Linked DNA regions of Homo sapiens: all the other regions are linked to region 1. The links come from fine-mapping of genetic effects on gene expression. A gene starts in region 1. Each other region holds a variant in brackets. All regions are shown on one strand. Distances are between the middles of the regions. Region 1 holds the start of PDE2A-AS2 (PDE2A antisense RNA 2). Region 2 overlaps CLPB (ClpB family mitochondrial disaggregase). Region 3 overlaps PDE2A (phosphodiesterase 2A).

Evidence for each region. PIP is the estimated chance that this variant, and not a neighbour inherited with it, causes the effect. A credible set is the group of variants that fine-mapping cannot tell apart.
Region 2: its variant is the best candidate, but not a certain one, in a credible set for the expression of PDE2A-AS2 in whole blood (INTERVAL, PIP 0.50).
Region 3: its variant is the best candidate, but not a certain one, in a credible set for the expression of PDE2A-AS2 in whole blood (INTERVAL, PIP 0.71).

What each region holds. Positions count from the first base shown.
Region 1 is chr11:72,580,519-72,588,518 of GRCh38, reverse strand. PDE2A-AS2 (PDE2A antisense RNA 2) reads right to left here and starts at 3,913. Exons shown (of 2, transcript XR_001748291.2): 1 at 3,463-3,913; 2 at 313-718. PDE2A (phosphodiesterase 2A) reads left to right here. Exons shown (of 31, transcript NM_002599.5): 14 at 2,338-2,449; 15 at 2,926-2,965; 16 at 3,085-3,148; 17 at 3,575-3,647; 18 at 3,791-3,968; 19 at 4,206-4,318; 20 at 5,004-5,081; 21 at 5,953-6,075; 22 at 6,572-6,642; 23 at 7,040-7,162; 24 at 7,546-7,633; 25 at 7,895-7,942. RefSeq lists silencers at 2,643-2,742, 3,973-4,082 and enhancers at 3,185-3,706, 3,707-4,230.
Region 2 is chr11:72,392,950-72,401,414 of GRCh38, reverse strand. All of the region lies in intron 3 of CLPB (ClpB family mitochondrial disaggregase), which reads left to right. Among named protein-coding and RNA genes, the nearest start is that of CLPB, 37 kb to the left of the region's middle. The variant C/T (reference allele first, on the strand shown) is at 3,901.
Region 3 is chr11:72,616,780-72,624,779 of GRCh38, reverse strand. All of the region lies in intron 2 of PDE2A (phosphodiesterase 2A), which reads left to right. LOC105369377 (a long non-coding RNA gene) reads right to left here. Exons shown (of 4, transcript XR_001748292.2): 4 at 5,591-5,836. It also overlaps the pseudogene RNU7-105P. Among named protein-coding and RNA genes, the nearest start is that of MIR139, 5.6 kb to the right of the region's middle. RefSeq lists an enhancer at 5,880-6,399. The variant G/C (reference allele first, on the strand shown) is at 3,635.

The DNA.
Region 1 (8,000 bases):
CTATAAACTGCTAGATGGAGGGGTGGGTGTGCTCTGGGTTGGATGAACCCTCTGGGACCCACAAAGCATCATCAACACAGTGGACAGTGGCTAAAGGGAATATGCTTGGGGACTGGGAAAAGCTGTGGATCTTTTGAGCCCCTGACAGGGCAGCTATAAAAATGATACACAAAAATCTCTTTTTTTGTGGGCAGGGCACAGTGGACAGGAAAGCAGGCTTGGAGGCTTAGTTGGAAAGGATATCTCGAGAACTGAGGACAAACCTGGGGTCTAGAAATGGTGTCATAAATAAATTTCATATCCTACACCAACTCATAAACAGGCAGTAGGTGCCTGAATTTTATTGCAAATGGATCTTAGTTCAGGGAGAAACAGTGCTGCGTCTGATGAGCCATTTCTGTCCTGGGTGCAGGTTCACACTTGGGCTGGCAGGATGAGCAGTTTGTGCTGTGTCACATAGGTGGGGAGAAGTAGACAGATGAGGGGCTGAGTCCTGATGCAAAGAGATGCTGATAGGATGCTGGTCTCTGGAGTCCAAGCAAACAGGCTGGGTTTCAGGGCCTGGAGCTCCTGCAGGAGGTGGACACTAGAGAGCCTGGGACTAGGTAGGTGTCAGAGCCCGGGCCTGAGGTCTGCTGGGGTAGGGTGGAGATCCAGGAGTCCTAGGTCTGAGCTGCAGAACCTACCAGCATGGAACTGTGTTGACAGTTGGGTGGGCCTGGAGAAACAAAGATAGGGGCAAGGCAGAATCAGCTGAGGCAGGGAGAATGTGGGATTGGTGGCATTTGGAACTTGTGGGCATCCTAATGGTGGGAGAATTTATGCCATTCAGCAAACAAATATTGAGCACTTAATGTTGCCATCCCAGTGCTGACCAGATGGCCTTGGGAAGGCCTTTGGGGAAGGGAAGGTAGAGTGAATGGGGGTCCAGCAGGGGCCATGACTTCTTGCTGCTGGCTGTGAGATTGGGTTCTAGGATGGCCCCAGAGCTGGAGAAGAGGTGGTATCAGCAGGAAATAAGGATGGGGCCTTGGTGGCAGCTTTGAGGCCCAGGGCAGGGGCAGGGCTATCTCTGTGTCCCACGCATTTCAGGGAGTGAGTGTTGAATGACTGCATGAGCCAGGGTGGGGCTCAGCTCAGTGCAGTGACTACAGAGAAGCTTCCTGAAACACAGCTAAGTAGCCAGAGAACAGGGGCTCCAGAAGCCCTTCAGCTGTGAGTGGGATGGGGCTGGTGGCAAGGCCAGGGATAGGATACACTGACGACATTAGCAAAGACCTCCGAAGTGTTTCCTCTGTACCAGGCTCTGCACTGGGCATGGGTGATATAGTCATGGCCCCATTTCATAAGACTCGAAGCTCATTTTCAGGGCATAGAGGGAAGAGAGTGAGAAGGGTATTCTAGGCCGAGGGAACAGTGTAGAAAAAAAAGCATGAAGGTGTGAAAGAGCCCAAGGTTTTCTCAGAATGATGAGGATCTTTGTGTGGCTGAAGCTGAGAGATGTTCTGGGTTGAGGGGTGACAGGTGGGTGGGGCTAGCTGAGGGACCACAAATGTAAGAAAGGTGTGCAGACAGACCCAGGATGGTGGGGATGGGATCTAGATCCGAATCACTGGATGGCAAGCATGAATGGGGGATGCCCCACCAGGGTGGAGCACCAAGGCCAGCCAAAAAGTGGGGAAGGGCTTAGGCAGGGACACCTCAGGGCAGCGTGATGTGGGCTAAGGCAGGCTCTTCCCATGACCCACACCATTGGTCCACCCAGCCCCATGCAGCTCCCCAGTGACAAATCATTTGGTGGCCAGATTGAATGACGTGAGCAGGATTTGGGGCTTATCTTGTCTCACCAGAGCTAGCTCCATGAGCAGGGCAAGCAGTCCTCTCCACACCACCACCCTAAGATTTCTGGAGGCACCGAATCAGGGCCAGCGGAGTCCAGGGAGAGTGGGGTAGTGACAGGAGCTGCACAAGATAGGGCAGTGCCACCGCCCCTCCCCAAGGCTGGAGGTGTGCCTGGGGAAGAGCAGAACACCAGCTTGAGCCCAGGCAATCTCTAGTCTGAGGGAGGAGACCCAGCTTTGGGCTGGGTAAATCCCAAATCAGAGACGGGAGGTATGGCTCTGGTTTCAAGCATCTAAGGAGGACTGGAGCCCTCCCCTTGGGCAGCCCCCAGTCTGCAGGGTCATGGGGGTGGGAAGCTGTTCCAAGGGCCTGTGCAGTGGTTATATAGTTGGCAGGTGGGTACCCCTGTGGGCTTCTGATGGAACAGAAGTAAGGAGAGTGGGGAGAGAAGCCAGTCTTCCCTTCCCTCCTGAGTGAGCCCACCCCCTCCTCCAGGTTCACCGACGAGGACGAGCATGTGATCCAGCACTGCTTCCACTACACCAGCACCGTGCTCACCAGCACCCTGGCCTTCCAGAAGGAACAGAAACTCAAGTGTGAGTGCCAGGTGAGTGACCTGCCTTCAGCCTCTCTCGGGCACCGACTCGCTCAGTTTTCAGCCCCGAGAGCCATTCAGAAGGGAAATGCCCATGTCTTTCTGGACTGGTGGCAGCCCTTCCCCAGGTGGCTCCATAACCTCATAACTTGAAGGCTTGCAGTTGTTCAGGACCCGCGCCACTGCCCGCAGGCACTGTATGTGATCGCCCTCTAGTGTTCAATTTGGGCACTACAGCAACACCTAGGCAGCTAGAGCTGGCGTGAAGGCGGCTGAGACACTCAGGAGACTCCTCACCTGCACCGGGGCTATTCCCTCACTCCTTCACTTAGTAGCCAAATGATATAATTAGACACTGACAGTTTCTGGCTTGTCCAGTGAGCCCTAGGGAAGGAAGGAGAAGACCCGGGTGCTGTTGGAGGCAGGAGGTTGGATAGGGTGACCCCTACACCCCGACCCCCCTATGATCTCCATTTCCTTCATTCCAGGCTCTTCTCCAAGTGGCAAAGAACCTCTTCACCCACCTGGGTGAGTGCACTGTTCTCTCTGCCTGGCTGTGTGTGGGCATGGGGGCTGGCATTTGCAGAGGAGAGGCGGGAGGTCTTGGCAGCCTGGTCTCACCCTGCCTGGTCTTCTCCCTTCCCCAGATGACGTCTCTGTCCTGCTCCAGGAGATCATCACGGAGGCCAGAAACCTCAGCAACGCAGAGATGTGAGTGACTCTACCCAGGGGACAGGGCGAGAGAGGCTGTGGCCTTCAGTCCCCATCATCTCCTTTCCTGCCCCACCCACTTCCCTTTCTCTGCCTTCTGCGGGACTTCATCACCTTTTGAGGGATCCTTTATTTCATGCCTGTCTCCCTCGCTAGACTGTAGGCTCCAATACAGCAGGGACAGGGCTGGCTTTGGATCCTCAGCTCCTATCACAGTGCCTGGCACATAGTAGGTGCTTCCAAAAAAAAAAAAAAACAAAACACTTGAATGGACACGTTTCTGGAGCCAGCCAGCCCTGAGCAGAGTGTCTTACCTTGGAGCACTCCTCCCAGGCCTCGGAAATCCGGCCTTTGCCTCCTTATGGGACGTGAGGGCGATCAGAGGGGGTTGTCAGGCCCCAGAGGACCAAACCCCTCCCTCCACAGCTGCTCTGTGTTCCTGCTGGATCAGAATGAGCTGGTGGCCAAGGTGTTCGACGGGGGCGTGGTGGATGATGAGGTGAGAGGGTGTGGAGGGAGTATGTGGCCCTAGGGGTGTCCGGGAGTCCGCCGGCGGCGCTGGGGAGCGGCCCGAGGTTTAACAGTCCCCTCTGTGGCCGGGTCACTAACTTCTTCCTCTCGACTCCATCTCTGCTCCGGCAGAGCTATGAGATCCGCATCCCGGCCGATCAGGGCATCGCGGGACACGTGGCGACCACGGGCCAGATCCTGAACATCCCTGACGCATATGCCCATCCGCTTTTCTACCGCGGCGTGGACGACAGCACCGGCTTCCGCACGCGCAACATCCTCTGCTTCCCCATCAAGAACGAGAACCAGGGTGCGCGTGGCGGCCCGGGCGGAGGGGCGGGGCCTGCGCCGGGCGGGGCGGGTCCGAGCGAGCGGGGGTGGCAACACTTCCCCACCGCCTCCAGCGTCCCGGAGCATAAGGGAGTCGGGTTCCATGCCTGGGACGTACGTAACCTGCGGAAACTGCGAGGGCAGGTCCCGGCCGGATCCCTCCCTCCAACCGATCCCTCCCTCCACCGGTGGTTCCTTGCCCCTCTCCCTTCCCCAGAGGTCATCGGTGTGGCCGAGCTGGTGAACAAGATCAATGGGCCATGGTTCAGCAAGTTCGACGAGGACCTGGCGACGGCCTTCTCCATCTACTGCGGCATCAGCATCGCCCATGTGAGGGCGGGGTTGGGAGTGGGGTGTGGGGTGATAGGGGGCGGGGCCCACGAAGGACCCTCGGTTCTCCTCCTCCGACTGACTCTCCTTGTGGATTGATCCCTTGGTCTGGCACTCAGAGTCCCGCCGCTGGGGTGCAGCCTTCAGGACACGCTGGCCACCTCTGGGCTCAGTTTCCCATCTAAAAATTGGGCATACGATTTCCTGCCCTGTCCACTCAGCCTCCTGGGACCATGAGAAACTCCCGTTGTCAAAACCTCCTCTCTTCCCTGGAAGCAGTCTCAACCCAAGCCGAGTGCTTTTTTGGAAGTGCTGGGTCTCGGTGTCCAGGCCTACTGGCGCTCTGGCCTGGGAATCCAGCCCCAAGGTCCCTGACATGATCCCCTCCTTGCTTCTCCTTCCCTGCCATGGGCCTTGGGCTCCATCACTGAAGCCTGGATCAGGTGTGGGGGAGTGCAAAGGGCCAGACCAAATGCTGGGAGAACTTGATGAGGAGGAACCGGCGCGGGGTCTGGATGAAAGTGGGGGTGGGGTCTTTACTGTGGACTGGAGCTTGAAGGTTTTGACTGGGGCCAGAATGGGACAGGAAGTGGGGTGTCTTTTTGACCCCTTCATCCCAGTCCTGGGCATTGCTAAATTTTCACAGCCACCTTCCTTGAGCCCCATCTTTCCCTCTTTCCCCTAGTCTCTCCTATACAAAAAAGTGAATGAGGCTCAGTATCGCAGCCACCTGGCCAATGAGATGATGATGTACCACATGAAGGTGAGGCTTGCAGAGACCTCTGGTCCTCCTCCCAGATTCCCCGGGGACCCAGGGCCAGGCAGGGCTTCCTGATCAATCTCTACTGAGGATGAGAGGATAGGCCCAGAGCCACAGCAGGCCTCCTGCCCTCCTTAGGGGCAGCTCCCACCCCTGCTTAGAGACCTCTCCTCCAAGCTGCTTCTGAGCTCAGTCCCAAGGCTGGAAGTAGCCAGAGGAACCAGCCCAGGGAGTAATTGGTTCAGCCAGGTATTCCCCATGTTCAGGGAATAATTCCCATCTTGGGAATTACTGAGGGCTAGGAAGCTCACCCAGGACCCGTCCCCATGGCTTCCCTAGGTACAATGCCCATGCAGCCCTGGGCAGTCTTAATTGCTGATAATCTATCCCATTCCCTACCCTGGGTCACAAAAGCTGGCTTAGTTCCATGTATATGGTAGTCGCTGTTCATTTGGACATTTCCTCTCACCTGTGTCCAAACCAGAGAGGCCCAGACCTTGTGAGTTGGATCAAAACTGTAGTAGGAAGAGTTAAGGTTAGAGAGTAGAAAGGTCTCCACAAAAGGAGGACTGCTACAGTTACTGTGTATGAAATGCTGCCATGGTTAGGGGGTGTCATGAAGGGGTGTTGTCGATCTTTGCCAAGGTTATGCTGTTACAGATAAAGGGTGGTCACCTGCAGGGAGGCGCGCGGGGTGGGCTGCAGGGCTGTGAGGGGAGGGTGGTGATTTCCTGCCCAGTTACAGTCCACAGCGTGGTGGCCCAACTGTGGTACATTCTGGGTGACGGATCCCCCACCTGCCATGGGAATTTGAGGGTGAAGACACCAGATGGGGTGAAGGCTGTCTTCTAATGCTCTGGCTGGTCTCCTCTAGGTCTCCGATGATGAGTATACCAAACTTCTCCATGATGGGATCCAGCCTGTGGCTGCCATTGACTCCAATTTTGCAAGTTTCACCTATACCCCTCGTTCCCTGCCCGAGGATGACACGTCCATGGTGAGTTGCTCTCCTCCACTTGACTGGCCAGGCCGAAGGTATGTAGCCAGAGGCTTAAGTTAAATGCGCATCAAGAACTTCCTGGGAAGACAGAGTCATCAAGGAAGGCTGTGGAGGGTCCCTCAGAGATGGAGGGGCTTGTAGTCTGCCATCAGGAAGCCATAGGGCCTGCCCAGGGGCTAGAGGCTGGACTGGATGATCCCAAGGGCTGCTCTTGGACCAACCATGCCCAGGGCATGTGACCTCAGGGTTTGCATCCCTCCCAACCCTGTTTTTCTAACATTTTGTGTGGGCTTGGTTTCAAGAGTTCTTAGTTCTTAGATCTCTAAAAATGCATAGCTCCGAGAACGGTTGCTTCAACTATTTTGTGGTTCTCTAGTTTAGATGTAAGTTTCTAAGACTCCAGATTTTGAGTGTGGAGCTTGAAGAAGGACCCAGGCAAGGGCCCCGTCTTGATACTGGCAGCCCCTCTGATACCTCCCTCTGCCCTCTCCAGGCCATCCTGAGCATGCTGCAGGACATGAATTTCATCAACAACTACAAAATTGACTGCCCGACCCTGGCCCGGTTCGTGCGCCCACAGACAGCCCCAGTCTTCGCCTCCCTCTTTCCTCTACTGTCACATCCGTTGCCCCCGGCATTCTGGAGAGGATCTCTCTAAGGATGACTGGGGAGACCCAGTCTTATGGGGGTGGGGAGGATCCATGAATGAGAAGCAATTCCTAGACACTGAACTGTCAATAAAGGCAAGAAATGAGGCAAGGCAAAGCCTGGAGGCAAGGCCGAGAGTGTGTAGCCAGAGGTTTAAGTTAGATGTGCATAGGAACTTCCTGCTAAGACAGAGTCATCAAGGAAGGCTGTGGAGGGTCCCTCAGGGATGGAGGGGACATGTAGTTTGCCATCATGGGGCCGTGATGGAGGAGGAGAGGCTGAGGCCCCTCTTCTGCCCTCTTCCCTCCCCCAGGTTCTGTTTGATGGTGAAGAAGGGCTACCGGGATCCCCCCTACCACAACTGGATGCACGCCTTTTCTGTCTCCCACTTCTGCTACCTGCTCTACAAGAACCTGGAGCTCACCAACTACCTCGAGTGAGTGGCTGCATCTCCCCCACATCTGGCAGCCACTGGGGTCCCCTCCCTGGGACAGGGAAGCACCCCCTGTGTGTCAGGCACTTTACACGCACTGCCTCATGGGATCTTCTTAGCCCCAGGGGACTAGAGGGGAAGGCTGTGAGCCCCATCTTCCAGGAGGGGCTTGCTCACAGCCAAGCAGCTAGTGAAGACTGAGCCTGATTTAAACCCGGGTCTGCTGGGCTCCAAACCAGTGCTTCTTTCCAGGAAGGGAACCCAGGTGTTCCAACCTCCTGTCCCAGTGGCTCCTGGGCATGTCATCTCCTGTCTGTCCTCTTGGGGATTTAGGGAGGGAACTGTGGGCTGACCTCTTTTTTTTCTCCTTTCTGCCTCTCAACCAGGGACATCGAGATCTTTGCCTTGTTTATTTCCTGCATGTGTCATGACCTGGACCACAGAGGCACAAACAACTCTTTCCAGGTGGCCTCGGTAAGACCCTGCCCTGCTCACAGTGGGGACCCTCCATGGGGTGTCTGGGAGTCTCATCCTCTCCCAGCCTGAAGATGGGTGGGAGCGAGTGAGACCAGGAGCCAGGTTTAGACACAGGAGGAGGTTCCCCCAGGGTTTGCCCCTGGCTCTGAGATAGGGAGGAGGGGAGAAAGGTGGAAGGGCAGGACACTGCTCAGCCTAAAGCAGTGGCACTTGGATCCGGATGTGAGGAGTGACCACAGTTTTCCTGGGCTTTTCCAGAAATCTGTGCTGGCTGCGCTCTACAGCTCTGAGGGCTCCGTCATGGAGGTATCACTCTTCTGTCCCACCCCGTCCTTCTTCCCCTTTAAGGCCAGTGACTTGCAAA
Region 2 (8,465 bases), 190 kb after region 1:
GCTGGAGTGCAGTGGCGCGATCTTGGATCACTGCAACCCTCCACCTCCCAGGTTCAAGCAATTCCACTGCCTCAGCCTCCCGAGTAGCTGGGACTACAGGCGCACACCACCACACCCAGCTAATTTTTTTTGTATTTTTAGTAGAGATGGGGTTTCACCATGTTGGCCAGAATGGTATCGATCTCCTGACCTTGTGATCCACCCGCCTTGGCCTCCCAAAGTGCTGGGATTACAGGCGTGAGCCACCATGTCTGGCGCACCTATTCTTTAAAAGCAAAATTGATATAAATAGGCTTCGTAGTTGAGAGACCTAGAGTCCAGTCCTGGTTCCAAGCCTTAACTGAATTTCAGAACTCCATGGACAGCCTGTTTCTTCATCAGAAATTAATTATTTCTATGAACATTAGGTAAATATCTGCCTTGAGCCAGGCCCTGTGCTAGTGTTTGCAGAATCCGAGACCTTGGGGAGTTTGCAGTCTAATGGGGAAAACAAATGCAGGTAAGGAGACATAGTATAGTATGATCAGTGATTTCAGAGCAGTATGTATGGGATACCCTCGAAGCAAAGGGTGTGAGGGGACTCAATGTGGCAGCATAGTAGATCCTCACCATATTCTTTGGAGAATCAAATAAGGTAATGTATGTGCTACAGGTTATAAAGGTGGGTTGTTAGTCCCTGATGCCCCCATTAGATCTCTGTACACAAACACATGTGTTATTCTACACCGCTGGTACTTCACCACATGCACCAGTCTTTTCCCCCAGCTTGTAGCTGTTTCCCTCTGCAAGAAATAGCCAGTGGTGCTAAAGAAGGAGAGGTGGAGAGGTGTGTTCCCTTCTGTGTGTAGTATTTTCAAGGTTGAGACTGAATAGGAAACAACACGATGCTTAAAAATACTGTCAATTAGTGATCAGATGGCTAGTAGATATGCTTTTGGGGACACATCTCTTTGAATCTAATGAGTTGTTGGCTTAACTGATTGCTCTGTCTTTATCCAGAGCTGTTAGCAAATCAGTGATGCTTGTTGAGCAAAGTGAGAGTGTTGGCTTATATTTACTTGCTTTGGTTCCTAGGACTAATTATCCATTTTGTGACCTTCTCTTCCACTATCCAGGGAGGACAGATTTTTACTGAAAATAGCACACTCTTGGGTTGGATTTATGTATTCATATCGCAGAATTTTTTTTTGGCCCCTACTGTTTGCCAGGTACTGTTCTATGTACTTGAAATAATGTTGATGAAAAACAAAGATCCCTGCCCACATAGAGCTTATTTCTGTATTAGTTGTGGTCCTTTGGTAGAGAAAGATGTGGATAGACAATAAACAATGAGTATAATGGATGCGTAAACTATTTAATATATTAGAAGATAAGTGCCGTGGGAAAAAGGAAAAGTAGAACTTGTTAAAAAGGGAGTACCAGGAGTACATTGGTCAGGGTGAGTAGGCCTCATTGTTAAGGTGCCCTGTGAGTAGTCTTGGAGGATTAGCATATCCATACCAGCACAATCTGCCAATAAGTTTTTCCTTATTAGAAATATACTGATTTTCATATAATCAATCTCCAAATCCTTCCAGAATCATATTGGTCAGGCCTGAAATGCTACCACCTTTGAATTAGATTTCGATGAAGGGAAGATAGAGGGGGAGCACCCTTGATTCAAGGCTGAAAGCAGAGAACCTTCACCTCCTTCACCTCCTTTAGGATGTAGGCAGCCACAAGCTCAAGAGAGAGATCCTCGGAGTAGCCCAATCATTTCACCCTGATGCTGCTTAATAATATGTTAAGTCTTTAGGGATATAGAATACAATAGTCTCTGTCCTTAAGGAGCTTAATGTCTTATGAATTTCTAGGTCTGTATGTACATTTTATTTGGTTTTGAATAGGAAATAACAGTGCTATAGAACTACACTTTAAAAATATGCACAATAATTTAATTTATAATTTATTTTCTCCTTTTATTTCCAAAAAGAGTTTGAAGTGACTTAAAATACAAATATAAATATACACAGGAGAGGGAAAACTGGATCAAGATCAGAAATCATATTGGTTAAAGGAAAGATAATTGTATAAAGATTGAACCAGAGATTCTCTTTTCTGAAAATAGATTTATTGTTTTTGTAAAAATCATACATAAAATAGTAGTCACCTGAATTCCCTTTATCTGGAAATTGATTGTTATATATATGTTTATGTACAAATTTAACATGAATGGGACCATGCTGTATTTACTGTAAATTAAGTAATTAGGGAAATTGAGTATTAATTTAGATTGAAGTTTCCTGATAGGGCAAAAAAGGGATACAGAGAGTTATATCTTTATGTATTATATATATTTATGGTTTTATATATATAAAATATATATTATCATTATGTATATTCAGCAAACATATTTAAAAACTCTGTGGTGTCAGGTGCTAATGTGCTAGGCTATCAGGGATTCAGAGAATAAGCAGTCACAGCTTTTGCCTTAAGAAGCTTACTTGGACTGCCGACATCCAGGACTTGAGTAATGTGATGGCCATTGTCTTCAGTAGCCGTGCTGCCAAAGCTTTACCAACATTCTACTAGGACAATCCTTTTGCCAGCCCTAGTAACAGCTTGGGTATAGTATTGACTCAAGGAACAGTCATTGGGGTCTGGCCCCTTCTCCACAGTTAGCCCTCTATAAGCCTCATGCCACAAGGCACTTGTTTAGCCTGAGTCTGGGTGTCTCATTCTATATTGCACTCTGACCCAGTCCAGCTAAAGGCTAAGCCACAGGGTCCCAGAATGATCACTGTGACTTAGCGTAGCCTTCACCGGCTTGTGCAAATATACACAGCCTTCAGCTAAATTCAATTAGTTTTTCTTTAAGAAGGAAAAGAAATCCAATTTTACCAAACACGGACAGACGGTGGAAGGCACTTTGATGTTACAACCTCTCGGTGATGCTTTACTTAGTCACAAGTTCATAAGCAAGAAGGCTTAATTACTTGGGAAAACACAGGATTAAAACTGGACACAATGGCTGAGTATCCGCTCTCGGGCGACTTGATTCGAACCCATGCACCCAGTTCGTGTGTGGTGCAAACTTTGATGTGTTCTATGACAGGCTGAAAGTCATGACCCCCTTGGGGAAGCTCCTTCAGATGGCATTTGCAGGATGTGTAGGCGGAGAGGCAGGGCCTGCCAGGCCTGTTTGCTCAACTTTGATGTCCAAGCAGCCACAGGCCCCACTATTTGCTCTTCCACTGAGGGATGGATTGGGAGCCTCCTACCTTTCCCAGTGAACAATGGCCAGCAATGGAGTGTGACGACTGTTGACCATTCCAGAAGTCTGGTGGACCAGAACAGGGCTTTGGGAGGTGCAGAGCCTGGGGGGCCAAAAGCTGTTCATAGGACAGTCATTTCTCCAGATGTAGCTTTCCTTAAAGCTCTGGTATTGTTAGGTGCTTGCAATGGAGATAAAAATAGTCTCATGAGTTTTAGCACGGTTTAAGTACTTCTTGGCCCTCTGTTCCAGCAGCACTAAGATGTTTGTAAATTAGAAGTTTAAGTTGTTCCTAGTCCCTTAATTAGAGTATATGTGCAGAGGATAGTGGTTTAGAAGAAAAATTGTAAGACTTAGATTCTTATAATTTCTAATTCATAAAAAAGGAGCTGTAAAAACATGTATCTTATAAAGCAGTAGTACCCAGAACATATAAAGAAGTCTTACAAATCAATAATAAAAAAAATCTAATTTTTTTAAATGGGCAAAATATTTTAGCAGATGCTTCATCGAAAAAGAGATGGGTGGCAAATAAGCACATGAAAACATACTCAGTGCAAATTCAAGTCACAATGAGATACCACTACATACCTGCTACAGTAGCTAAAATTTAGGAAAACTGACAATACTAAGGGCTGACAAGGATA[C/T]AGAACAATATTGATACATCACTGATAGGAATGCATAATGGTATAGCCACATTGGAAAACACTTTGGCAGTTTCTTATAAAGGTAAAGTATACATTTACCATACCACAGAGCAATAGCAACTCCTAGGTATTTGTCTAAGAGAAATAAAAATGTACGTCTGCAAAAATACCTGTATGTAAATATTTATAGCAGCTTTATTCATGACCACCAAAAACTGGATATAATGCAATGTCCATCAACTGGTGAATGGACCAACAAATTGTGGTATATCCATACGGTAAAAACAGCCAAACAAACAATGACAACAACAAAAGCACCATGCTAAGCTAAAACCAACACAAAAAGCTACCTGCTCTGTAATTCCATGTATATGACATTCTGGAGAAGACAGAACTTTAGGGGCAGAAATCAGATTGGTGGTTGCCAGTGTTTGGGAATGGGAAGAGAATATAAAGGAACTTTTTGGGATGATGGAGAAATATTCTGTATCCTGATTATCATGCTGGTTACATGAATGTATATAATTATCAAAATTCATTAAATTATATATCTTAAAAAGGATGAATTTTACTCTGTGTAAATGTGATACTTCAGTAAACTGACTTTAAACACTTTTTAAAAAGCTGTCATCCCTCTCTAATTTTCATTATTAATTGTGACCAGTGGCATACTGAGAATTTGTATTAGTAGTATCAAAATTAATTCATATTGTTAATGGTCACCTGGAATGTTTTGAATTCTTATTGTTGATGATATCTCACATTAGAGTGATATGCATTCTGATTTTTAGTAGGGAATGAAGATTTGTCAATTCATACTATCAGTGATGTAATGAAGTATAATTACTGATGAATAGTGATAAATTCACTTTATGAGTAGTGTACAGTGGACTTGTATAAATTCATAAAGTATATGATTCTTCATTCCAGCAAGGAGAAAGTTGAGGTTACAGACTGGGAGCTTGCCTCTCCCACACTATTCTTGGGTTCCTTATCTCTGGACTCTCATGCAGGGACACCACCTATATAGTGAGGCCGTTGTGGTGCTTCAGGAACCAAAGATCCTGAAAAGGGAGGCTGGTGTGGGGAGATTTTGATTTCATCCTGCTTGGGCTTGGTGGTGGCTTTTGCAAGCCTTTGCCTCGGAGAAGGTGAGAACTGCAAGGCAGAGCATGAAGCACATCAGAACTGTTTGAAATTCCCCACAAGAGTCTCCCTCCCTCCTTCTGCCTTTTCTCCCCGAGTGCATTTCATCAGTGTCGGAAGGACTGGTTCCCGGCACTGCCTTCCCTGCTTGGCCAGGGTCCCCGAGGAACTGAGCTAATGAGTGGATAACACGCATTTGCCAAGGCCTTCCTGGATGTGGTACCCGGGCTTTGTTAATTTTAAAGTGCTGCCATCCTTGGCTGAAGACCATTCAATTCCCTCTCACAGCAGTCATTTATTTTTAGCATTTGCTTATTTTCCCTCTGCCTTACTAAGGGGAGAGGGTGCATTAAACCCTTTCTTTAAAAAACCGATAGCCTAAGCCAGATTGCTGTCCTACAGAAGAGGTTTTAAAGGCCTTCCTTTGTGGACCCCAACAGCTCCATGGGTGTTCTTAGAGCGAAGAGCAGATGCTAATCTTGCAGCTAGACTACTGGCAGCCTCCCTGGGAGGCTCTGCTTCCTTCCTGGCTAGCTATACGTGGAGCAGGTAGAGTACCAGTGTACCTGTGCTTGAAAGTAGGTCCTTAGGGAACCTGACCAACCACATGGAAGTCGGTCCTGCCTTAGGGGCACAGAGCCTTTTCCGTCTTCTAACCTATTCTTGGTCTGGCTTCGTGCTGTAGAGTAGGGCTACCTTCTGCCCAAGGAGGCTGGGCTTTGTGCTGTGTGATCTCCTGACTGTAGTAATGATGATGGCAGTAGTTGATTGGGTGCTTTCTGTGTGCCAGGCCCATGTCAAGCACTTCCCATGTTGGGTCTAATCCTCAGGGCAATCTTGAAAGGAAGGGATTATTATTCCTATTTTACAGATAGGGAAAATGAAGCTCAGAGTTGTCCAAGGTTGTCCAGCTAGTAAAAGAAGGAGCCAGGATTTGAAGCTGGGTCTTTCTGAACCCCAAACCCTTGCTCTTTCCACTGGACTACACTGCCTATGGAGGGAAGGGGCCGGGAGCAAGGCCATGGGATGGACCGAAGGATGCTGGAACCAGGAGTCAAGTCGGCTCTATCAGGGTTTCTTGATGACCCATGATGTATTATATGGATTTTGAGAACTGTAAAAACAGACAAGCCACTCTCCTTGTTCTCAGAAAGCTGACACTCAGAAAAGGGATAAAAGTCCCGCTTTGGAGAATGAGGCAGAATGTGTTCAGTGCCACAGAGAAGAACACATAGAGTGCTGTGGAGGAGATGATGCTGTGTAGAGCCAGCATCATGAAAAGAGGCCCTTTCAGAGGAGTTGGGCAGGATTTGATTGGTAACATAGGGAGTAGGGGGAGAGCATTTGCAGAAGGACCATTGTGAGCATAGGCTCACAAAGGTGGAAAGCAGAGATGTGCTCGTAGAAGCAACCGGCAGGGAACCCAAGAACATGGGACCCCTGAGCAGGGTACCTTGATATAGGCTGGCTTTTGTTACAGGTGGCCACCTGCCCAGTGCAGGACAGTACCCAGTATTCCCCAGCAAGGAAGGATGGGTGAGGGTGCTGGCCAAGTGCCCAGAATGCCAGCACCGCAGCACCGTGCCCCCAGGAAAGTGTTGGGCTTGACGTTTCTCCCACCCCTACTGCTATGGCCGATTATCTCTGAGTAAGAAAGAGTCATTTCTAATCCCATTTGGAATCGTTGCTCAAGATAATCCTGTTTTGTGGTAATGATATTCCAATTCCAGCATGCACTCGTAGTTTGGCAGACACATGCCTCAACCTCAGGCAACTCAAGACGCTGCTCCCTGGAAATCAGTGCCAGCTCATTTGCCTAACGTGACAGTCTCAGGGTATACTTCCTGGGCCCAATGCTCTGTTCTGTCCTGGGGTTCTGTGTTCAGTGCTGTCTTCATGGAGAGTGGCAGTTGGGGATAGGAGAGCATCCAGTGTTCATTATGGAGAGTGGCAGTTGGGGATAGGAGAGCATCCAGTGTTCATTATGGAGAGTGGCAGTTGGGGATAGGAAAGCATCCAGTGTTCATTCAGTTCAGCTGCTTGGGGCAGGGTGTTCCATCTCTAGGAACTGTGAGATGGTCTAGTTCTATACCTCTTCTTTAAGAGACTTCTTTAAAAACAGCTGTACCATAAGCTGCTTATTTTAACAGAGCTGCCAGGCTGGTGGGCCAGGGGTCGGCAGTAGATATCATGGGTGTTTCAGGCTTTTAGTAAGATATTTGGATGTCTCTAATGACATCTATATGAGTAAAATTATGATGTAAAAATAGTATAGTCAGACTAGTAAATGTAAATGACCTGGTTCATTGTTTATGTATGAATGGACATCAGACTAGAGAGCAGGCTTGAGTGGTGAGCAATGGGGCTCTGTCCTGTTCAGTATTTTATATCACTGATTTCATTGAGGTCATTGATAAATGCCAACAGAGTTAATGAAGCTTGAGGAGGTACTAATATATTGGGTGAAAAAATAGGGGACATTAAATAAAACCTCAGTGGGCTAGAGCAATGGTTAAATCTGTGTTGATAAAAACTAACAAGGATAAGTATATGGGTCAACAATTAAAAACCAACTGTAAAACCCAACGTGCAAAACTTAGCAATACTAAAAGTAAAGTCTAGAAGCTGACTAAAAACCCAATATGTTGTCTGCTGTGCAACATCAGGCCCCAGAAGTGAATTGATTCAGCAAATATTTACTGCCCTGTATAGGCCCTATGTGTGTGGAGATGGAAATAGTCAAGGCACAGTCCCTGCTTTGGGGAGCATCCAGTCTACTTATGTATACTATGGTAGTGAAGAATAGGGGCTCTGGAGTGAAGCTGCCTGTGTTGAAGACCTTGCTGTGCCTCTTATGGTTTTTAGTTTACCCATCTGCAAAATGGGAATAATAATGGCACCTACCTCAGCATAAGGTGGTTGCAAAGATTAAAATGCACATAAAACTACTTAGTGTAGTGAATAAGTAGGTATCTGCTGCTGTTATTAATATTGTTTTTTCTTTTTGTTGTTATTTTCACCCGAGTCTAAGAGATATGCCAGCCCCATCATACTGTTCTGGATCATTTGCCTAGAGAGAGCCTAGTCTGGGTCCATACTGTAATAAGTCCTAACATCTAGGGCCTGACTACACTGGCCTTAGGTTTGGTGACCATATATTATGAACCACAAATTGAAAGACATGGAAGTGTATTTAGAACTACGCTGAGGATGTGAAATTGGGATTATCTTGGAAACCCTGTTGTGGGTGATCTTGATTCCTTGGCCATCAGCTTAACGTGCCATGCCTTCCTCGAGCCTTGCCCCTAATTATATCACCTCTGTCTGGGTTCACCACTGATTTTTACCCTTGTCTATCTCAAACAGACTCCTTCTTATCCCAGCTAGCTGCTATGACCTGCTTTGCTTTAACTGCCATC
Region 3 (8,000 bases), 36 kb before region 1:
CAGTGGCTGTGCCACCAAGTGTGTAACACTGTGTGATATTGATTGTGTGATGCTGACACCGAGTGTGTGACATTGCACATTGCATGCTACCACGTGTGTGACACTGAAAGTGACAGTGAGCACATGGAGGGTGTGTCTCCATGAGAATCAAATACAGAAACGTGAGCAAATGACGCTGCAGTAGCAGGTATGGTCCTGAGTCTGTGGCTCGAGTGTCTGACACTGAATTGTGACATTGAGTGTGTCCCAAGCATATGATCTAGTGAGGCTGAGTGTGTAAACAAAGGCATGACATGGAGTGATAGCAAGTGTGTGGAAGTGGGCGTGTGATGCTGTGTGATCTTGGGCCTGACATTACATGTGTGATGCTCTGTAATGGTTGTAACAGTATGCAATGTGCACATACAGTGCTGTGTAGGACACTGTCATGGGAAGGCACCGATGGGTTCAGGCGGGAAAGTAACACCGTCCAAAGGATGGTTTTAAAAGATTGCTCTGGCCAGATGCAGTGGCTCACACCTATAATCCCAGCACTTTGGGAGGCTGAGCTGGGTGGATCACCTGAGGTCAGGAGTTCAAGACCAGTCTGGTGAAACCCCATCTCTACTAAAAATACAAAAATTAGCCAGGCATGGTGACAGGCGCCTGTAATCTCAGCTGCTCGGGAGGTTGAGACAGGAGAATCACTTGAACCCAGGGGGCAGAGGTTGCAGTGAGCCAAGATTGAGCCATTGCACTCCAGCCTGGGTGACGAGTGAAATACCATCTCAAAAAAAAAAAAAGAAAAAGATTGCTCAGGTTGCAGAATATGTATGTGTGCGAGTGTGCATGGTGCGTGGCAGGGGAGGGGAGATAAGTTAGGGGGAGGCAGAGAGAAGGTGGGTAGAGCAACTGGAGGCTCCTGCAGCTGCCCAGGCAGGAGATGGTGGTGCCTGTGTTAATGGAATGGCAGAAGAGTTAGAGATATGGAGCAACTTTGGAGATATTTGAAAACAGAAATGACAGAACTTGCTGATAAATGAGAAGATGAGCAAGAGGGAAAACCAGAGAACAATTTCCAGGGTTCTGGCTTGAAGAACCAAGCGATGGATGGTGAAGATGTTTCTGAGATGGGCAAAGGCAAGGGGGAGGGTCAGCACTAGTGGGGTGGGAGGACAAGGAGGCAGAAACCGAGTGAGCTGTTTTGGATGTGTTAAGGGAAGCATCCAGGTGAAGGTGTGCAGTGGGCAGCGGGGCCAGGCTAGGGATACATCTGGGAGTCGACAGGCATGGGGGGTTTGTTAAGGTCGTGGACCTGGCTGGGATAATGGAGAGAGGGAGCTTGGCAACAGAAGAGGTGGGGACTGAGGACCGAGCCTTAAACTCTGAATATTCCATTGTCTAGAGGCCGGGGAGGTGAGAAGGAGCAGCAACGAGACAGAGGAGGAGGGCCAGGGAGGCAGAGGAGACCAGGAGTGTGAAGCCAGAAGCCAAGGGAGGAAAGAGGCTCAAGTGGGAGGGAGGGTCGGTGTGTGGATGGTGCTGGCCCACAGGTAAGATGGGAACCGGAAGATTGTGCTGTGCTGGGCACTGTGGGTGAGTCAGGCTAATGGGAGCCATTTCAGTGATGGGCTGGAGCCAGAAGTCAGACTGGCCTGTGTAGGATGGTGAGGGAGGTGAAGACGTTAGCCTGGAGAGCCCTTTGGAGACGTTGGGCTGTGAGGGCTGCAGAGAAGGACATGATCGCTGGAAAGGGAGATTACATTTTTTTATTATGGGTGATTCTAAGCAGACACAATACCAGAGAGAAGCATATAAGAAACTGCCATATACTCATCACCCCAGTTCAACAGTTGCTGGGATTTGGCCTCATTTCTTCCTCTCTTGCCCCCTATCTGTTCTTTCATTTTCCTTTGCTTAAGCTTAAAATTTTTTAAATTGTGGTAAAATATACATAACTTAAACTTTACCATCATAACCATTTCTAAGTGTACAGTTCAGTTGTGGTAGGTACATTCACACTGTTTTGCAACCAATCTCTGGAACTCTTTCATCTTCTCAAACTGAAACTCTGCACCTATTAAACGACAGCCCCCATCCTCCTCTGTCTCCAGCTCCTGGCACCCACCATTCTACTTTCTGTCTCTATGACTTGGACTACTCTAGATACCTCAAGTAATTGGAATAATGTAGTATCTGTCTTTTTGTGACTGGTTTTTAAGTTTACTTAGCATAACGTCTTCAAGTTTTACCCATGTTGTAGCATGTGACAGGATTTCCTTCCTTTTTATGGCCACATAATATTCCAGTGTATGGACAGACCACATCCATCCAACACCAGACACTTGGGTTGCTTTCACATTTTAGCTATTGTGAGTAATGCTGCTATGAACATAAGTGTACAAATATCTCTTCAAGATCCTGCTTCCAATTCTTTCAGATGTATACCTAGAAGTACGCTTGCTGGATCACACAGTCATTCTATTTTTTGGTTTTTGAGGAACTGCCATACTGTTTTCTGTATCTTTTTACATTCCCACGGACAGTGTACAGGGGTTTCAGTTTCTCCACATCCTTGCCAACATGTGTTATTTTCTGTTCTTTTTTTTCTTTTATTTTTTAATGGTAGCCATCCTAATGGGTGTGGGGTGACATTTCATTGTGGTTTTGATTTGCATTTCCCTAATGATTAGTGAAGTTGAGCATCTTTTCATGTGCTGGTTGGCCACTTGTATATCTTCTTTGGGAAAATGTTGATTCAAGTCCTTTGCCCATTTAAAACATTGGGTTGTTTGCTTTTTTGTTGTTATTGAATTGCAGGGGTTCTTTATATATTCCAGATATTACCTCTTTATCAGATAAAAGCTTTGCAAATATTTTTCTCCCATTTCATAGGTTGCTTCGCTGAAATATGTTAAAGCAAATCCCAGACATGATGTCATTTCACCAAAGGTAGACTTTTTTTTTGGTGGGGGGAGCTTTCCGGTGAAGACTGAAAAACCTGCTAGACAAATTCTAAAATAGATGTGACTTTGGATTTTTGTTTTTTAAGGCTAGGAGGTCCTGGATGATGCTGAAATGTAACAGTGACACAGAGCCAGTGTGGAACTGTGTCTGATGCTGTGTGAGGGTGACATGGTGGCTTTGGGAACATGGGTGCAACACTGAAGATATGGGAGACTCCAAGTGAGGGTGACAGTGAGAGATCACTGTGTGTGTGGCCCTGTGACACCCAGTGACATGGGACAGTGGGACGCTGTGGACCCTGAAATGACTGTGTGTCACCGAGCAGGTGGGACCTGCTGTGTGAAGGCCACAGGTGTCATGTCTTCTTGTGTCATCCTGGTTGATGAGTGTGACACAGTGCAGGACTCTGCATGGGAGTAAGAGGGACTGAAGCTGTGCTATAGGTGACCGGGCTGCATGTGATTCAAGTGGGCTCAGCCCCAGCTTCAGCTGCTGAGTATGGGAGGGAGCATGGACATTGTAGGGTAGATGAGGAGAAACACTGAATGGGAACAGAAATGGTGTCTGTGCCCAGATGCGAGCTCCTCCCTTCTCTGAATACCCAGGAAGGCTTCCTGGAGGCAGGATGTGGGCACTTCAGCAGGATGTTGTAGGTGCTGATTAAGAGCAGGGCCTGTGGTGTCAGACA[G/C]CCCTGTCTAGGCTCTGACATTCAGCAGGTCATTTTATCTCTTGAGCCTCAATTTCCTCAAGTATAAAATGGGAGCTCTTAGGAGGATTGCATGAAGCAGTGCTCCAATGCATGCAGTCTCTGGCACTTGGTAAATACTCTATGGTCTCTTGGGGAGCAGCAACCTCAACACCTGCACCCCAGGTCCCCAAATAACAGGAGCACCAGTAGGAGCACAGTGAAGGTGCGCTGAGTGAGGTGTCCTCTTACACCCACAGCCCTCCTCTCTCCCTCTCCCCCAACTTCTGTCCCCTGCTTGGTGTTGTCAGCGATACCCCCTCCTGCCCACTCACTCCTGCCCCCTCCTCTCCCCTGCCGTCCTTACCACTGTCAGCCTCCAGCCCAGGCTCCTGCAGCCTCATCCAATTAGGCCAATGCAATTTGCTCAAGAAAAAGCCCCATAATTTGGTTAATCACACCAGTAGGGGATCTGGTCCCGGTCGGGAGGGTGGGGGTGGATAGGAGTCCATACCCGCAGCTGAGGCACAGGTGTCAAAGTGCCTGTCTTTTGGGACCTTTACCCACTTCCTTGGGCTCCTTTCAGGAGCCAACAGAGTCCAAAGCTTGGGTCTTCTCAAACCCAACTACAGAGGCCTTGAAACAGGAGTCTGGACTTCCTGGGTTCGCTTGTGTTCCTGGGAGGGTCCCTGCTACTCTCTGGGCCTCAGTCTCCCTTTCCAAAAATGGGAGTGGAACTGGGGAGTCTCAGAGGCCCCAGTTGGCCTAGCTCTGCATCCCAGCTCTGGTCAGTCCCCCTTGTGGCTTCTGAGGGGCCTTCTCCTGGGCCTTGGGGAGGGAGCACTGAGGGGTAGGTGGAGAGCACAGGGCCCCAGGGAAGTGAGGAGGGGTAAGTGTCCTCTGAGTCTCATCTGGAATGTGTCTACCCCAGTCCTATAATCAGAGACCCTCTAGTTCCAGGCTGCACACCTGAAGGTGGGGCAGGAAGAAAGGAAGCTGCCCTTTCTTGGTCACCTGCAAGGCCAAAGTCTCTTAACCGTGCAGGCTATACCTTGCACAGGAGCTCCAGCAGAGGTGGGGTGGTGCTGAAACTGAGCCCACTCTCCCTCACCAAGCCTTTCCCCTCAGGCCCGCATCTGCCCAGAGAATTGGGGTCCCTCCTTTCTAATGTGCACACAGGTGGCCCCAGCCCCCTGCTGGGAGTCAGCTTAGGCAAGGTTTGATGGCTCAGCTTAATCTTCTCAGCAGCTCTGGGGGAAGAGACCATTTTACGGATGAGGAACTGAGCCCAGGAAGGTCCAAAGACTTGTCCAGTACATGTGGTGTGTGGCAGGGCAGGCAGATGAGCCCGCATCTGAGGGAGGCGATGGGAGAAGTGACAGGGGTGCGCAGAGGAGGAGAATTAGACCCTCTCAGATTCCACCACTCTCAGCCACACGTTCACTCACTCATTTGGAGACAAGACTAACCACCAGCGCATTCACAGCACCCCAGACAGCCACATACTGACTATACCACTGTCACATGGACATCAATGACCTGAATCACATATGCATAGATGCAGGCCCACATGGTCACTCCCACGTGCAGATGGCCAGTGCACACACATAGACACAGGGTACTCACACATGTTTACACTCTCACGACCCATGTGGGTTACAGATTCCTACAGAGACACAGACCTACATACTTTCACAAGGAAATTCTCCCAGTGACCCAGGGAACATAGTCTGCCATGATGATGTGATGGTCCGTAGGGGCTCGCCACTATGGACCATTAATGGGCAGGCTGCACACATGCTTAGGTCCCCAGCAAAGCGGGAGTTCTGCACAGAGTGAGAGGAGAGGTCAGTTCTGATGAGTGTATCCAGAATTTTGCAATCAGAAAAACCACACAAAAACTATTTTAATTTTCATTTCCAAGATAAAATTTAGTTTGAATTGTATAGAGGGTCCGAGGGTCTGGTGGGAGGGCATCATCATCTTTTCAAGGCTTTGGGGTTCTAAGGCACCCACAGATTCACAACAGTCCCACAAGATATCCCAGGCTGACATATTTACCCAGCCCAGTGTGTGCGTGTGTGTGTGTGTGTGTGCGCACGCTGTGTGCATGCTCATGCTGGCTCCCAGATCCTCGGGATGTGAGGAAGGAAAGTAGGAGAGATTCCAGAGACTCCGGATGTTTGTTCTCTGGCTTCCTGGGCCCTTCAAAGGAAAATAACTCTGGATGTCAGCCTGCCTGCCTGGCGGGCTGGGTGGAGAGGTGGGCTGTTTATGTTGGGAGGTGGGCTGTATGACAGCCTGCCTCAGCCCCTGTGGCCCCACTGACCGGGACCCTGTGTAATGAGGCAGAGTGACCAAGGCCCATGGCCAGCGTCCCATGGGCTCGTAGGCCCATCGCCTCCCCTCTCTGGGGCTTGGCTCTCTCATCTGAAAAATGGAGGTGGGAAGGAGATGAGACTGGATGGGCTTTCTCCTGGAGACTGATTAGAGAGACAGAGACTCAGGCCCGGGGTCCAGAAAAGACAACCAAAGCTGGGGAGGGCACATGAAGGGGGGCAAAGAAGGTCTGGGTTCAGGGGAGTGCGTGGGGCCCCAGAGCCTGCCATGTCTCCGCCAACTCTCTCCCTCACTGGAGGAGGGCTCTGTGCCTTGGTGCCCCACCTGCCCAGGGCCCTGTGGCTCAGCCCCTTGCTTGCTCTGTGAGGGGGACGGGAGAAGGATGAGAGTCCCAGTGATAGGGGGAGGACAAGACCAGGGGAGAGGGCTGGGGGTTTCTGGAGGGCCAGAGCAGGAAGAGCAGGAGAGAAGAGAGGACACCACAGTGCAGGAAACGGAGGAGCAAAGGCTGGGAGTGGGGAGGCTGGAGGGGTGCAGGGAATCAGACTGGGGCGCTGCGAAGAGGCCTGAGGCCAGAGCAGGCAGTGCCTGGATGGAGGGAGCGAGCAGCTCCTCACCCTCAGCTCCTTGATGAGGTAAGGTGACCACGAGCCCTGCTCCAGGCTGTGTGCTGAGCACTTTGCTCGGAGCCTGTCACTCTGGAGGAGGGGAGGGGGTGTTCCCAGGAGCTATGACAGTCTTGTGCAAGGGAGGGACAGGGTCACATTTATGTTTAACAAAGCACTGCGCTGGGAGAGAGGAGCTGAGAGACCCCGGCCCTGGGGAGCATGGTGGCTGGGACCCCGGAGGGCAGGCGTGCCCCAGACGGACCCCACTCAGAAGATTGCTTATCCCAACCCCCCAAAGAGAAAGGCTATTTTTAGGAACAATAAAAGTGCTCACACATTCCTGCAGGGGCAGAGAGAGGGAAAGGGGGCAGGAGTCAGTGCAGAGGAAGAGGGTGGACCCCGCTCTTCTCCCAACTCTGCCTTGGTCTTCAGGGACTTCTCCTCAGGGGCTTCCCCAGCCAGCCCTGCCTCTCCAGCCTCCGCCTGTCCCTGGGGTTCCCTACCGGCTCTTATGTCTATCCCTCTGCTTCTGAATTGGTACTTGTTCTGTCCCTGTCTCTCTTTCTCATACTTCCACTTTCCCCCTCCCCCTGGGGTTTGGGGAACAGCTGGGATGGGCCAAGCTCTGTTGAGAGAGCCAAATACAGTCATAGGACAAAGCAGCGGGAGGCTGTGGGATACACACATGCCGCAGAGCACAGACAGAGAGAGGTGGCCAGGCACAGAGAGAGCGCCCAGGGAGGCTGAGAGGCAGGGAGAAAACACGCTGGGACAGTCAGGGAGAGCCCCAGGGCAGGCATCACCGGGCAGCCAGCCTCTGTGCCCTGCTCTCTATCTTGTCCCTAAGAAGACCAGCATGGCTGGGCTTGCCTCCCGCCATCCACCCCACCAGCCCTACCCCAGGCTGGCCCTTCCTCCCCGCCCTCTGCAGGCCCACACTAACCCTAGGCCAGGCCGCCTCCTTCAGCATTTACCTCCCACACACAATGGGCACAGTGAGGACATAAGAGACCCAGTCTCTGGCCTGGAGGCAGATACTCAGCCTTACCCGACATCTGAGAGGGCTCAGCCCATCCCCTGGCCAAGGCAGGTATTAGAGGGGCCCCAAAGACAAGCAGGACTCTGGGACAAGGTGTCCTAGTGTGGCCCAAAGGGCTGGGCTGAAGCATGGGTCTCCTGGCTCCAGATGAGAGCCTGGGTGAATCCTTCCCTGCCTCCTCTGGCCTTAGTCTACCCCATCAAGCTTGGGATTGGACTACATGAGGCCTGAGGCCCTGTAGCCCCTGGTCCCTGGGAATTCTCAGAAGGCCTGGGAGGGGGACAGGTGACCACGCAGGAAGGCTTCCTGGAGGAGGTGTCCTCACTCATGAAAGAAGGTGATAGTGACAGTGCTCCTCTTGGGGAAGAGCCCTCCATCCTGA